2 linked regions of the Homo sapiens genome follow. The protein of the gene in region 2 interacts with the protein of the main gene of each other region in a pairwise test. Each region holds a gene or a part of one and is shown on either strand. Other genes may lie near its edges.

The links.
Region 1: the proteins of FAM133A (region 2) and NOS1AP interact in binary tests that used the Homo sapiens proteins (3 or more experiments, as listed by UniProt).

The regions. Positions count from the first base shown.
Region 1 is NC_000001.11:162,366,568-162,371,147, reverse strand, and holds the end of NOS1AP (carboxyl-terminal PDZ ligand of neuronal nitric oxide synthase protein), read right to left. Parts: intron 4,097-4,580; coding exon 3,681-4,096; 3' UTR 673-3,680; downstream 1-672. UniProt on the Homo sapiens protein: Adapter protein involved in neuronal nitric-oxide (NO) synthesis regulation via its association with nNOS/NOS1. The complex formed with NOS1 and synapsins is necessary for specific NO and synapsin functions at a presynaptic level.
Region 2 is NC_000023.11:93,669,706-93,677,223, forward strand, and holds the start of FAM133A (protein FAM133A), read left to right. Parts: upstream 1-4,500; 5' UTR 4,501-4,569; exon of another isoform or gene 4,570-4,699; intron 4,700-4,975; 5' UTR 4,976-5,047; intron 5,048-7,518. Other genes in the region: NAP1L3 (nucleosome assembly protein 1-like 3), read right to left, coding at 2,079-3,599.

The sequences.
Region 1 (4,580 bases), on a different chromosome or scaffold from region 2:
GTCCTGCTACTCAGGAGGCTGAAGTGGGAGGATCATGGAGCCCAGGGAGGTCAGGGCTGCAGTGAGCCATGATCATGCACTCCAGCCTGGGCGACAGAGTGAGACCCTGCCTTAAAAACACCTGAAAAACAAAAAGCCCTGAAACCCAAAACCAAAAAAACCAACTGGCTGCTACTACCCACATATTCTAATGATATTTGGAGTTTGAAAAAACCTGGGATTGGCAGAGTCGGCAAAAATGGGTGTAGACGAGTTTCCCAATCTCAGGACTACTGACATTTGGGGCTGGATGATTCTTTGTTGTGGGGGGCTGTCCTGTGCATTGTAGGATATTGATCAGTATCCCTGGCTTCACTCACTACATGCCAGTAGCTTTGTGACAACCAAAAACATTTCTAGACATTGTCAGATGTCCCCTGGTGAGGAAAAATCAGGCCTAGTTAAGAACCACTGATACCTCTGATCCCGCAGGGCTGATCTATATAAAGTGCAAATGAAGCCACCATCTTCCTCTCCTCCTACAGGGAACTTGTGAATCTTTCCTCAATCCCATACCCTTGGGAACCATCTCACAGAGCTGATGCCACTTGGCTTGGGAAGTGGGGTGGAAGTGAGGGGGAGAGAAGGAGCAGGTGGAATAGAAGCAGCAAGAAAAGACAATGGAAAAGCTTCTAGAAATAAGAAAGGTTTATTTAGCAAAAGCCACTAGACTAGTGACAACATCCAGGGAGTAAGTGCACTTACATTAACAGAATCTTTTCCCAGAGAGTTGATCCAACAGAGTTAATGACACAACAGCTTTAGGAAGTAGAGTGCTAGTGGGTAGAGGGTTAGGAGGAAGCAGTCAAGCAAAGAGTAAATAAAAGGAATACAACGCCTAAACAAGATCAGTTGAGAGAAATGAGGCTAGGAAGAGGTTTTACAGAGAGAGCATTGATATAAGCAGGAATATAAGGAATATAATTTTTAATCTCAATATACAGTCCATCCAGTGCAGAGAAATTCTTTCCTGGCTCCATAACTGTGGGAGCCTCCTGTGCACGAGAGTCTGCTGGCACCTGGGGTAGGCTGGGGCAGGCACCAATAAGGTTAGCACCCCTGGTGTCCATTTGTCCTCCATATAGGGCAGAGTAGAAGAATGAAAAAGAGGAAGGCAGAGTTGAGTTAGCAGAGCAAGAAGCAAGGAGGGAGGACAGGGTGACATCGTCGGGAAATCAGGTCTGCAATGTTCCCTTTCCTGCCCAGTTGGCCCTGATGGAGGGTCGGTGGCTGGTGATCCTTCAAGGCTCCTAGATCTGTCCTTTGTCTCCCATCTCCACACACCAAGTATGCGCTGGTTTGGGTCCACTGGGGAGGATACCAATACACAAACTAGTCCTCCAGGGAGGGCCTGAACTGGGGAAAGGGTGGCGCCCAGGCAGGAAGAAACCACCATGGAACACCCCAAGGGCAGGAGTCTTGGATGGGTCCCAAAGTCAGCAACACAGATAACTAGTTTCTCCAATTCTTTAATTTCTCCATTTCCTTTCGTCTATCCAATCTCAAGTTTTTACAGGCCATTTAGAAGCGGCCTTCCTCACCCACTCCCTGGCCACATCCCACACAAGCCCTCTCCATCCACATTCCATACACCTAATCCACTGGCCTCTGGCTTTATCCTCAGCTCCGGCTTACGTCAGAAAACAGACTTTTCACTCCTCTGGACGTTCAAAATCTTAATAATCTAAGTGGTCTTGGACTCAGGGAACCCTGGGTTAGATTTCATAAGCTAGGTAGGCTCAGCCACACTGGATTCTGACAGCTGCTCATTTAGTTTCATGGATCTCACTTTCCTGGTTCTTCCTTCTCTGTGTAACTGTACCTATTTCCAATGGCAAATTAGATCAAAACAAAACAAACAGAACCATGCCTCTCCAACTAAATGCATGTTAGAAAACACAAATCTGTTGCTGATTCAAACACCCTGGAGATCCTCGTTCTTTTCCGTCTGGTTACAATCCTACATATATGTACACACTTTCCCTCACACATGTATATATAAACACATGTGTACACACACACACAAAACACACACACACACACCACCTGATCCTATTTCCACTGACACCCTGATGCACCAAGGAAGGCTAACATAAAACTGAATTTATTTCCTTTAATTTGGACTTTCTGGGCTACAAGAAAACCAACTGTGGCCATTAGAAGAGGACTGCACTTTTATTTATATATAATCTAAAGGAAAGCTAGGGTCGATGAACTCCATTTTGGGATAATCATATCCTTGCCGATTGACCCTCCAATAACACTGCAGTTTGCATCTGTACCTTGTTGTCTAGGATAAAGACTTAATTCCCCGAACATATGACTCTAGCAGGTCTCAGCAATCTCTTCAGGCATTTGAAAATCTGTTAACAGCCACTTATGGCCTTACAGGAGCAAAGGAGCTTTTCCTCATTGCCCCAGCCAGCCCGTTAAGGAGTAGTGATCCCTAGGCAAAGCCTAGATCATAAAAGATAAGACAATTGCACATGGCACTTTTTATATGTGTGCTCAAGGCACGCACGCAGAGAGATGGGCCAAGGGTGGCAATGGCTGTGGTCCCTGACCCAAGTGGCAGTGATTCAGAAGAGTGGACAAAAACAGTCTCACAGTCTCAGCTATCAGCTTGCATTCATTCTTTTTTTTCTTTCTCTTTTTTCTTTTTTTTTTTTTGCAGTAAAAACTGACCACCACTGCCCAGTGGAGGGGACAGGTTGAGAGGTAAGGCTGGGGGCTCTGGTCCTCTGGGGCTTTCAGAGAGGTAAAGTGCTGCAAAAGCTTCAGCTGGACAGGACACAGGGGAGGTGAGGGGCAATTCCCAGCTTCCATTTAGATGGGCTGGGCTACAGGCAGGAGGAAGGCAGGGCAGGACTTTCAAAACAGGAATCAGATCTAAGTGATTTGGAGCAGCAGACAAGCTGTCCTCCCCCTGGGCTCTCACACCAAGGGCCTGAACCATGTTAAAGCTTCAAGGCTCCCTTTGTAGCAACATTCAATGTCCGGCTGGAGAAAATGTTTGGATTCAGTTCCTCTAAAAGCTTATCCACTGTGACACATTCCAATTCCATGCTCACCCTACAAGGACTAGCCTGGCTTTTGCGGTCCAGAGCACTCAATCTCTACAATCTCAGCAAGGGCCTGGAGAAGGAATTCCTCTCATAAAGGTAGGGGGAGGGTTAGGCAACTCGCAGCATCGTGATATCCAGAAACAAAGTACCTGAGAAGGTACCGATGGCTTCCCTTCCTGGTCGGGACCATGGAGACGGGGAGAGTGAGGGGGTAGGGGGGCATCACGGACAAAGCGTGGGAGCCTGACGATGCAGCAGGTAGGGGCAGGTCCTCCAGCAGCCTGGCAGTCCTGGAGAGAGACCCTCTCCTGAAGCCATGGGCTCTGGAAGGCCTTACCTCCACCACCCTCTAGTCACAAGTAGGAGAGGAGCTGATTCACCTCTGGGAATCCGATTTCTTCCCCACTTTACCCTCCAAAGCAGAATCTCAATACTTTCCTGAAACCTCACACTCTCCCGGGCCCTGGCTGGCATTCTCCTCGGCAGTGCACATTCACTGGGCATCCCCTACCCGGGCAGCAGCCAGACACGGCCCCTCCAGCCACGCCGCCGCCTCCATCTCCTCGCCCTCGGCACCTACACGGCGATCTCATCATCCAGGCCGTCGCCCAGTTCCTGCCTCTGCAGGACATTCAGCAGGCGCGGCAGCTCCTCCTGGGACCACGAGTCGCGCTCCTCGCTCTCGTCCGTGTTGGACTCGTACTCCGAGGCGATGCCTGACTCTCGGAACTTGATGAGCTCCAGACCGCCCAGGAGCGCCTCGCCCTGCGCTGGGGGCGGGGTGTCCTCGGGCGGAAGAAAGCGAAAGCACTCCAGCTTCACCAAGCAGTCGCGCCTACCTAAGGGGCTGCCCGCAGGGTGGGCAAAGTCAGCCAAGCCCGCGCCCAGCGGCGGCGAATGCAGGTCCTCTGGCTTAGGGGTCGTGGGGTCACAGAGCACGGGCAGGGCTCCGGAGCGGAAGGTGATCTCCAGCAAGCTGTCCTGGGAGCCCACTGCAGGGGAGACAAGAGGTAGCAGAGGGGCAGCGTTAGGCAAGGTTGTTGATTTGGGATGCCCGCCTTCTGCCCGCCCGTGCCCTGCCAAAGCCCTTCCCAGACCAGCTTAGCAGCACCTCTCCGGGCTTTGGGTCTCTTAACACTTCACCCTTCCTCCCGCCCCCACATAGCTCCAGACACACCTCGCTGGAGGGGAGGAGCTTTGGGACGTGGTAAAGGCGGGGACATAAGAACCATATGATGGTTCTGGTAGCCACTGAAGGCTCTGAATAGGGTTAGTGGTAGGAAAAAGGTACCAATTGAGAGAACCATGTTAGAAGCCTGTGGTAACCTTTAGTACAATCATGTAAATAAGCATTAATTAGGATAGAGCAGAGTTTCAATGAACAATCTGGAAAATCCAGAGAGGCTTCCAGAGTGGTGAAGGGCACTGGTTTCCAATCCACACCTCTGGGCTACTTTAAAAATACAGGCTCCCAGA
Region 2 (7,518 bases):
GCGGATCACCTGAAGTTGGGAGTTCGAGACCAGCCTGACCAATGTGGAGGAACTCTGTCTCTACTAAAAATACAAAATTAGCTGGGTGTGGTGGCACATGCCTGTAATCCCAGCTACTTGGGAGGCTGAGGTAGGAGAATCACTTGAACCCAGGAGGCGGAGGTTGCACTCCAGCCTGGGCAATAAAAGTGAAACTGTCTAAAACAAAACAAAACAAAACAAAACAAAACAAAAAAAAAAAAAACAAAAAACGCTGTGGTATTGCTAAAAACAATAATTTGCTTCCTGATGTTGTGGAAAATCATAAAGCAAACCTAACTATCTGAACACATGTGGTGGGTTAAATATGACATTGGTTTTAATATTTTTACATTATAGAAATTGGGGAGTGACTATTGTTAAGCAGAATAAAAGTGAGATGCTAAACTATATATGGTAGGGTACGGAAGACTATTATAGATCATTTTAGGCCTAGAGAGTCAGAAATTCTAAAATCCTCTCTTACTTCGGCTACAGTTTCCTATGAGATTTTCAAGGGAAACATTTGTGGACTGGGAAATGGCAAATGTGAAATAAGGTACCACTTTATTATATGCTGTGCTTCTTCCTTTATGTCCAGTGCAAAGCTCCCTGGTAAACTGAGTTTAAGTGTGAGAGAACCTCCTCACACTTATCTCAAACCAAAATCTTAGGATCTCTTTGTGACCAGCTGCATGGTGAAGAGATGAGAGCCTGGTATCACTGTAAGAAAAAATGAGTCAAGGTAGTGTGACCTCCTTCCAAGTCAAGGTGAAGGGTGGGTCCATAGCTTGTCTTCTACATAACTGGTGTTGTGAGTGAGGCACTCCTGCTCTCCTTCCCCTCTTCTCTCCAGTTCCCTTTGCCACCGCCCCCCCCCCACATTCCTTCTGCTACCCACCTTCCTCCCTTTCCCTTTTTCACCTCTCTTCTTTCTTCTCCACCCCTCCTTTCTCCCTCCTCCCTTACCCATCCCCATCCCCTTCTACCTTTCCCTTCCTTTCCCTCCATGCCATGTTCCTTTTCCTTGTTCCATTGCTCTCCAAAATCTTGAATGAGTGTCCTCCAACAGAAAAGCTAAGATGTGGGAAATACATCAGAATGTTAATAATAGTTATCTTTTTATTAAATTGTCCTTTTCCTTGTGATCCTCTACTTTCTTCTATGATAAGCATCCCTCTTTTATAGTCAGGAGAAAAGGCTAGATTTTTATAGTATAACACACTTTAATATTTATTTATTTTAGGTTGCAATACAAGAACATGAAAAACAGTATCAAATGAAGTGATCATTTTCAGTGAAAGGGAAGGTAGAACACAATACAAAGAAAACACGGTATCTTTAGTTTACAATTACACAATATAAGATGAAGAAACTTTTTCAAAAATACTATGTTATATTAACACCTCAGTGGTAAACAATAACATCATTATGATTAAATTTATAGGCCACTATATGTCACATACACAAGGTCTCAGTTGAATCAAATGTGGTCTTTTCACATTAGATGTATGCTAATCTTTTTCAAGCAGTCAAACTTCAAAATACACTGTTTTATTTACTATAAGTACTGGATTTCTATAGCAAACTAATGAAGGCACAGCTAGTGCAAGCAGATTTAAACCCTTAGTCTTATGGGCTGGAAAAAAGAAAAAAATAAAACACTTGCATTGGTACTTCATGAACTTTTTTTTTCAAGCAAATATTTGTTTCAGTTAACAATTCTGACAGTTTCACAGCTACAGTCTAACAGAAACATGACCAAAGGACATCACAAAAATCAACACTGTGTAGCACCAAACTAACATGCTTTAGATAATTGACAACAGCTTACATATTTTGAAGAATATTATACTACAACAGCCTAGATAGAATAAACTGGCACTTAGACACTTTTTAGGACTATTTTTAAAATATAGACTACCAAGAAACCACAAAAACTTGACTATAAGGAATAATAGTGTTCAGGTTACAGGTCAGGGTTTTACTTTTTTCAAGGCTGTATGAATCTGCTTCACTTCTTGAGATTTTAAGATTCTTGAAAAATCTTTCAGATTGACTTATTTTCTGTATTTCTTGTTTCCATAATGTTTGCCAAATTGATAGTAGGTACCATTGACTTCTCCAGTATAGTAATAGATTGATTTCAGGATGACATTATCATGTAAAATCTGCCCAATTTCAAAGTCCTCATCCAGGATAGCATCTTCTCGTGGTTCCAGCTTCCCAATCATAGGAATCTCAGGAGGACTAAAGAAGTTGAAGAATGATGCATTAGGAACCACTCTTGGCTGGATTTCAATTTCTCCAGTAGCAGTTGTGCGACTCTGGGTAGTTGTCACAGTAACATCTTTTCCTCTTCTCCAGTCTATCTTGCAGCCTTTGCAATCTTCAATTTCCCATCCCCAAGAAAAGAAGGGATCATTGTGATCTGGTTTTGCCTTTATTATATATGTCTTCACCAGCACCTCATTTCTGAAGTATGGGTTGGGTAGAAAATGAAATTCAAAGGTGTAACTTACAGGCTGGCCAGGTTTTGAGAACTTCAGGCTAACATCCGACAAGAACTTCAGAATGGGCTCATCATACTTCTGAATCATAGGCCCGAGCTTGTCAACATTCTTTAAAACAATCAGCCAATAGTCAGGAATGCCTTTAGGGTCTTCTCTTTTAGGCTTTCCCTTCCTAGCTCTTTTAAGATCTACACTGTCCTGAAGCCTTTCCTCAGGAACTCTTTTATGAGTCTCTCTTACTGCAGCCCTTGCCTTAGCCTCTGTTGCTTTAGGCTGTTCTTTATCATCTGCCTTTACCTGGGGGACTTCTTTAGGATCTTCTTTTACTTCAGGGGTTGCCTCCATACAGTCTTTAGAATCTGCTTTTTCTTCAGCCTTTACCTCAGGAATTTCTTTAGGAACTTCCTTTTCTTCATCCTTCACCTCAGGAATTTCTTTAGGAACTTCCTTCTCTTCAGCTTTCACCTCTGGGTTTTCTTTAGGGTTTTCTTCTTCCTCACCCTCTAAGGGAGGCATTTCACTAGGGGTGTTATCCTGCACCTCCTCATCACTGCTGAACTCCTCATCCTCTGAATTCCATTCACATTCTTCTTCTGTAGGCTCGTATTCTGCATTGATGATTTGAAACCGCCTATCATACAGAGGCTTGTTGAGTTCAGCATATTTTCTTTCAAGATCATGAATTGCTTTTAAGAACAGGGTATCTACCTTGTCACATTCATCTTGAATGTTTCTAAGCGCTTGCACACGATTTCTAACTGCCTGAGGCAGCCTATCCACGAAATTTGTTCCCAACGGGGCCCGCCGCGCCCTTCTGGAAGGCTCAGGTACCCTCTTCTTTCTATACAAGCGGCTGCGGCTGCTAGTGCTGCCGCTGCTGCTGCTGCTGCTGCCGCTGCCGCTGCTGCTGCCACTAGTGCTGCTGCTGCTGCTGCTGTCACTAGTGCTGCTGCTAGAGCTACTGCTGTCAGATTCTTCCCCAGAATCACTAGTCGAGCTAGCCATCTCCTCTTCGGCAACCCCATGGGCGACAGGTTCCGAGACCATTTTAAAATCTGCTTCTGCCATCTTGCAAGCCTACAAACTCTACCAGGGAGACCGCGCGACCAGAGATGGGCAGAAAATGACTCACGGATGCTTGAGTGGCGGCGGCGGAGGCCCGGGCTGCGGAGGTGGCAGCGGCGATGGCAGCAGCGGCGCAGAGCGGAGCTGGAGCTGGGGATGCAGAGGCCGGCGCTGAGGTGGCAGCGGCAGTGGAGGCTTGGGCGACAGCGGTGGCGGCAAGGCCTCTCCCGGCTGCAGCTAGAGTGCCGAGATGTACCGCAGCCGAATGGCGCAGTATGAGACCCCGAGATCTCTTCTCGTTTTAGATCGCGAGCCCCCTCCCCTTGCAGTCAGACCTCCCGTTAATTTCGTTCCCAGTGTGCCTTTAGTTCGCTCCTCATTTGCTGGTCCACCTTAATTGACAAACTGTACGCCCAACGAACGGCCAAACGCCACTACTCCTGGCTCCGCCCACCTTCCCAGACGCCGCTCGCTGGCTGAGGTGCGACCCCTTGGAAGGTGTCCCCCTGCCCCCCAAAAAGTCTATATTTATAGTTTTATAATTAAAAAAGAAAAAAAAGCGTAGACATGAGGTAAAAATACCAGCCATAGTTCCTAACAAGGGCAAAAGAGGCGTGTCTTCCTTCTCCCATCCGCCCACCCTGAATTCCCGTTTAGTTTGTCACGGGTCTCTTGACAAAAAGCTGTAAAAAAAAAAAAAAAAAAAAAAAAAAATTGAATGAAAATGGTCCAAATGGCGTCATTGGGTAGTGTGACTATGGACGATTTAAAAACAAAACGATTTTCTCTAAATATTCTATGAGCATGCATTTTTACACTGGATAAAAAAGGGGAGAGTCGGTTATTGGCAGAGGAGGGAGGGACTAGACAGCAGGCGTATTGCATTCCACGAAGCTGATTTAATAAGTGCTGTCTGTGATGTTTGGCAAGCCTGGTTTATATCCATCTACAAGGTTTGCGAACCCATGTTGCCGTGAGTCAGTTACACCATTTTTATTATATTTCTCTTTTTAGGCTGGCATATTATATACCCCAACCTTGCTGCTAACTTGCCACGTAGCCCTTCTCAATGCTTGTAACAACCTTGTAGATAAAACAAAGAGGTATTAAATGTTAGGTAGTATTGTTAAAAAGCAAATGATTTGCGTTATACTTTTGTGCAGCAGGTTTCAATTCCAAGAACAGTGGGATGGGAGGGGGAATTTGTGCTAATGAATGTGCATCTTCTGTCAGTGTATGCGATGTCATCTGCCACCAATTTCCTTCTAATGTTGTAAAATTCTAGCCATACTATAGTATGATTTACAAGTCCAGTAATATGTGAATAAACTTTTGCAAAATGAAGTTTAAAAACGAGTATTTGTTATTTTTATTTACAGGATTTTTTTTTCTGCTACAGAACAACTCCCTTGGTACAATAAAAAAGACGAGTATTTACTTTTCATTGAAAGGTAAGGATCATATTTAGCACATTTTAAAGAATGACAAAAATTACTCATCTCCATCTGAATAAAAGTTTACAGGATACAGTCATTTAAAGATTTATTTTAGAGAATTATCTTGATAATTCTATGGAAACAGGAAAATCCACAGAGGTAATTTGGCATACTAATGTAGACAATTACATACTTAACCGCATTAACTATCTAAACCTGGTCATAGAATACAAGTGGTAAATTAAAATATGAAATATGATAAATTATTCATTTCAAATGAGGAAATGTATTAAAGTTAGATTAATCTTTATAGAATTTGTGCTTTGTCATGTAATCACGTTTTTTAAAAGTTAGGAAACGCTTTTCTGTTTCATAAATGCATTTACTTTTATTGTTTATCTCTAATTGTCAAAGTCTGTGAACATTGCAAAGATAAAACAATATAGAAAATTCCAACAGTAGTAAAAACACAAAATCTTAACCACCAAATGATAAGAATTACTAGCATTTTGATGCACTTCCTTCCAGAAATTTCCTTGTGCATATACATACCTGCCTATTTATGTATACTGCTTTATCTATGTGACACCATATTATGTTTTGTAATCTTTTCATTTAATTTATCAATTACTAATGGCTATATTTTCATGGCAAATGATCGACATCTTATTTTTAAGTAAGTGCATATTCCATGGAAATAATTGCCTTAATTTATTTGACCAGATTCCTGTTATAGGGTGGCCATTTCTATACCATCTCTCCCCTTAAATACATACTATTTTCCTGCTATAATCAAAGTGTCCCTGGATACCTAAAGCATGTATTTCTATGCACTTGTGAAAATTGGTCATAAGATAAATTCCTAGAAATGGATGGCTTGGGGATGATCATTTCATATTATGAAATTATTATTGTATACATATTGCCAAACTCTCTGCAGAATTATTATCACAATTTACAGTTCCAACAGTGCATAAAGTTCATTTTTTTGTTATTCAACTAATATATTTTTGTGCTTGTCATATGCCGGGCAAATGTGGTAGAGGATTGTAGTATAATGGTGAATGAAATTTACTAAGTGCATATCCTTTCGTTGAATAATTTTAATCAAAACATATGTTATAGAAACAATGATTTACGTCATTGATGTTATACCATAAATATTGTTCTGAAACTTACTATTTTTATTTTAAATTATGGAGATTTAAAAAAATGTATGCTCTTATGTTTTAAACTTTGTAGCATTAGGAATTAGTATTTTAGAGTCAGTCATGAGTTAGGGATCCAGATTTTTAAAATATTTATTTTTATTAGCTAGCTAATTCTTCTAGTACCATTTATTTGGTAATCTTTCTATCTCCTGCTTACTTGAAATGCTATTTTGATCACATTAAATAAATTGCTTGGGTCTGTCTCTAAATTCTTTTCTGATCCATTGGTCAGACGTTTGCTGCAAACAACTAATGAGTCGGTTTTAAGATAACTTTACATTTTGTGAAGATGATATGTGTTCATTGATAAAGTCAGGCAATACATTGAAATACAAAGAAGAAATTAAAAGTAACTCAAAATACCACTGAGAAGTAATCACTACTTACATTTGTAATCAACATCTCCAAATTAATTTATCAATATTATGTATTCATATTTCTTAGATTAGTGGTAAGATTGTCTTTTCATATGTTTATGTTTTTTTGAGAATTGTCTATTCATATTTTTTTGCCACTGAATTAAGCAAGAAATTAATCAATGGTGAAATCCTAAAGGTAAAATGATTTTGGCCTTGACTTAAGACAACTATGATTTCTTCAGGAAATAACGCATGATATTGGGCAAATGTGACTAAATTACTTTCAGTTACTTTCATATTAAAATTGGTTGTTTTTTTTTTTTTGGATACTTGTGGGGTTTTTTGGATGCTTTTCAAGGATTACAGATTACTACTTAACCACTCACACTGATCCTGGAAAAGTTTGGAATGGAACATGGAGATGAAAAATAGAAAAAAGCTTACAAAAACATCATACAAAAATAATGTACTAATCAACAATTGTTATTTTCAATTTGGAATTATTTTTTCCAGATATAGGCAATGAAAATGGTTGAAAGTAGATGACTTTTTCTAATCACAATTCTCTACTTTAATTGTGTATACATAGGGATCTTGTAACACACTTATTTTTGTAGCCTTTTTTTTTTTTTTGGTCAATTAGTTTCTTTAATTTTATGTAGTAGGTATCTAAAAGAAAATAAGCTTTTTCTTCATAATCAATTTAATTGATGCATTATATCCTATTTGTTCTACTGTGAAATATAAGTATTAGTTTTATCATATCATATGCTTGTTTTTCTTAATAAGGTTAGATATAAATTATTTGCATAGTGATATGTTTTTTTGTTCAATTAACATGATTTTTTGGCGGGGGGGCTAAATGTTCATGCTTCTACATGAGATGATACATAACACAGAATCTGATAGTATACTC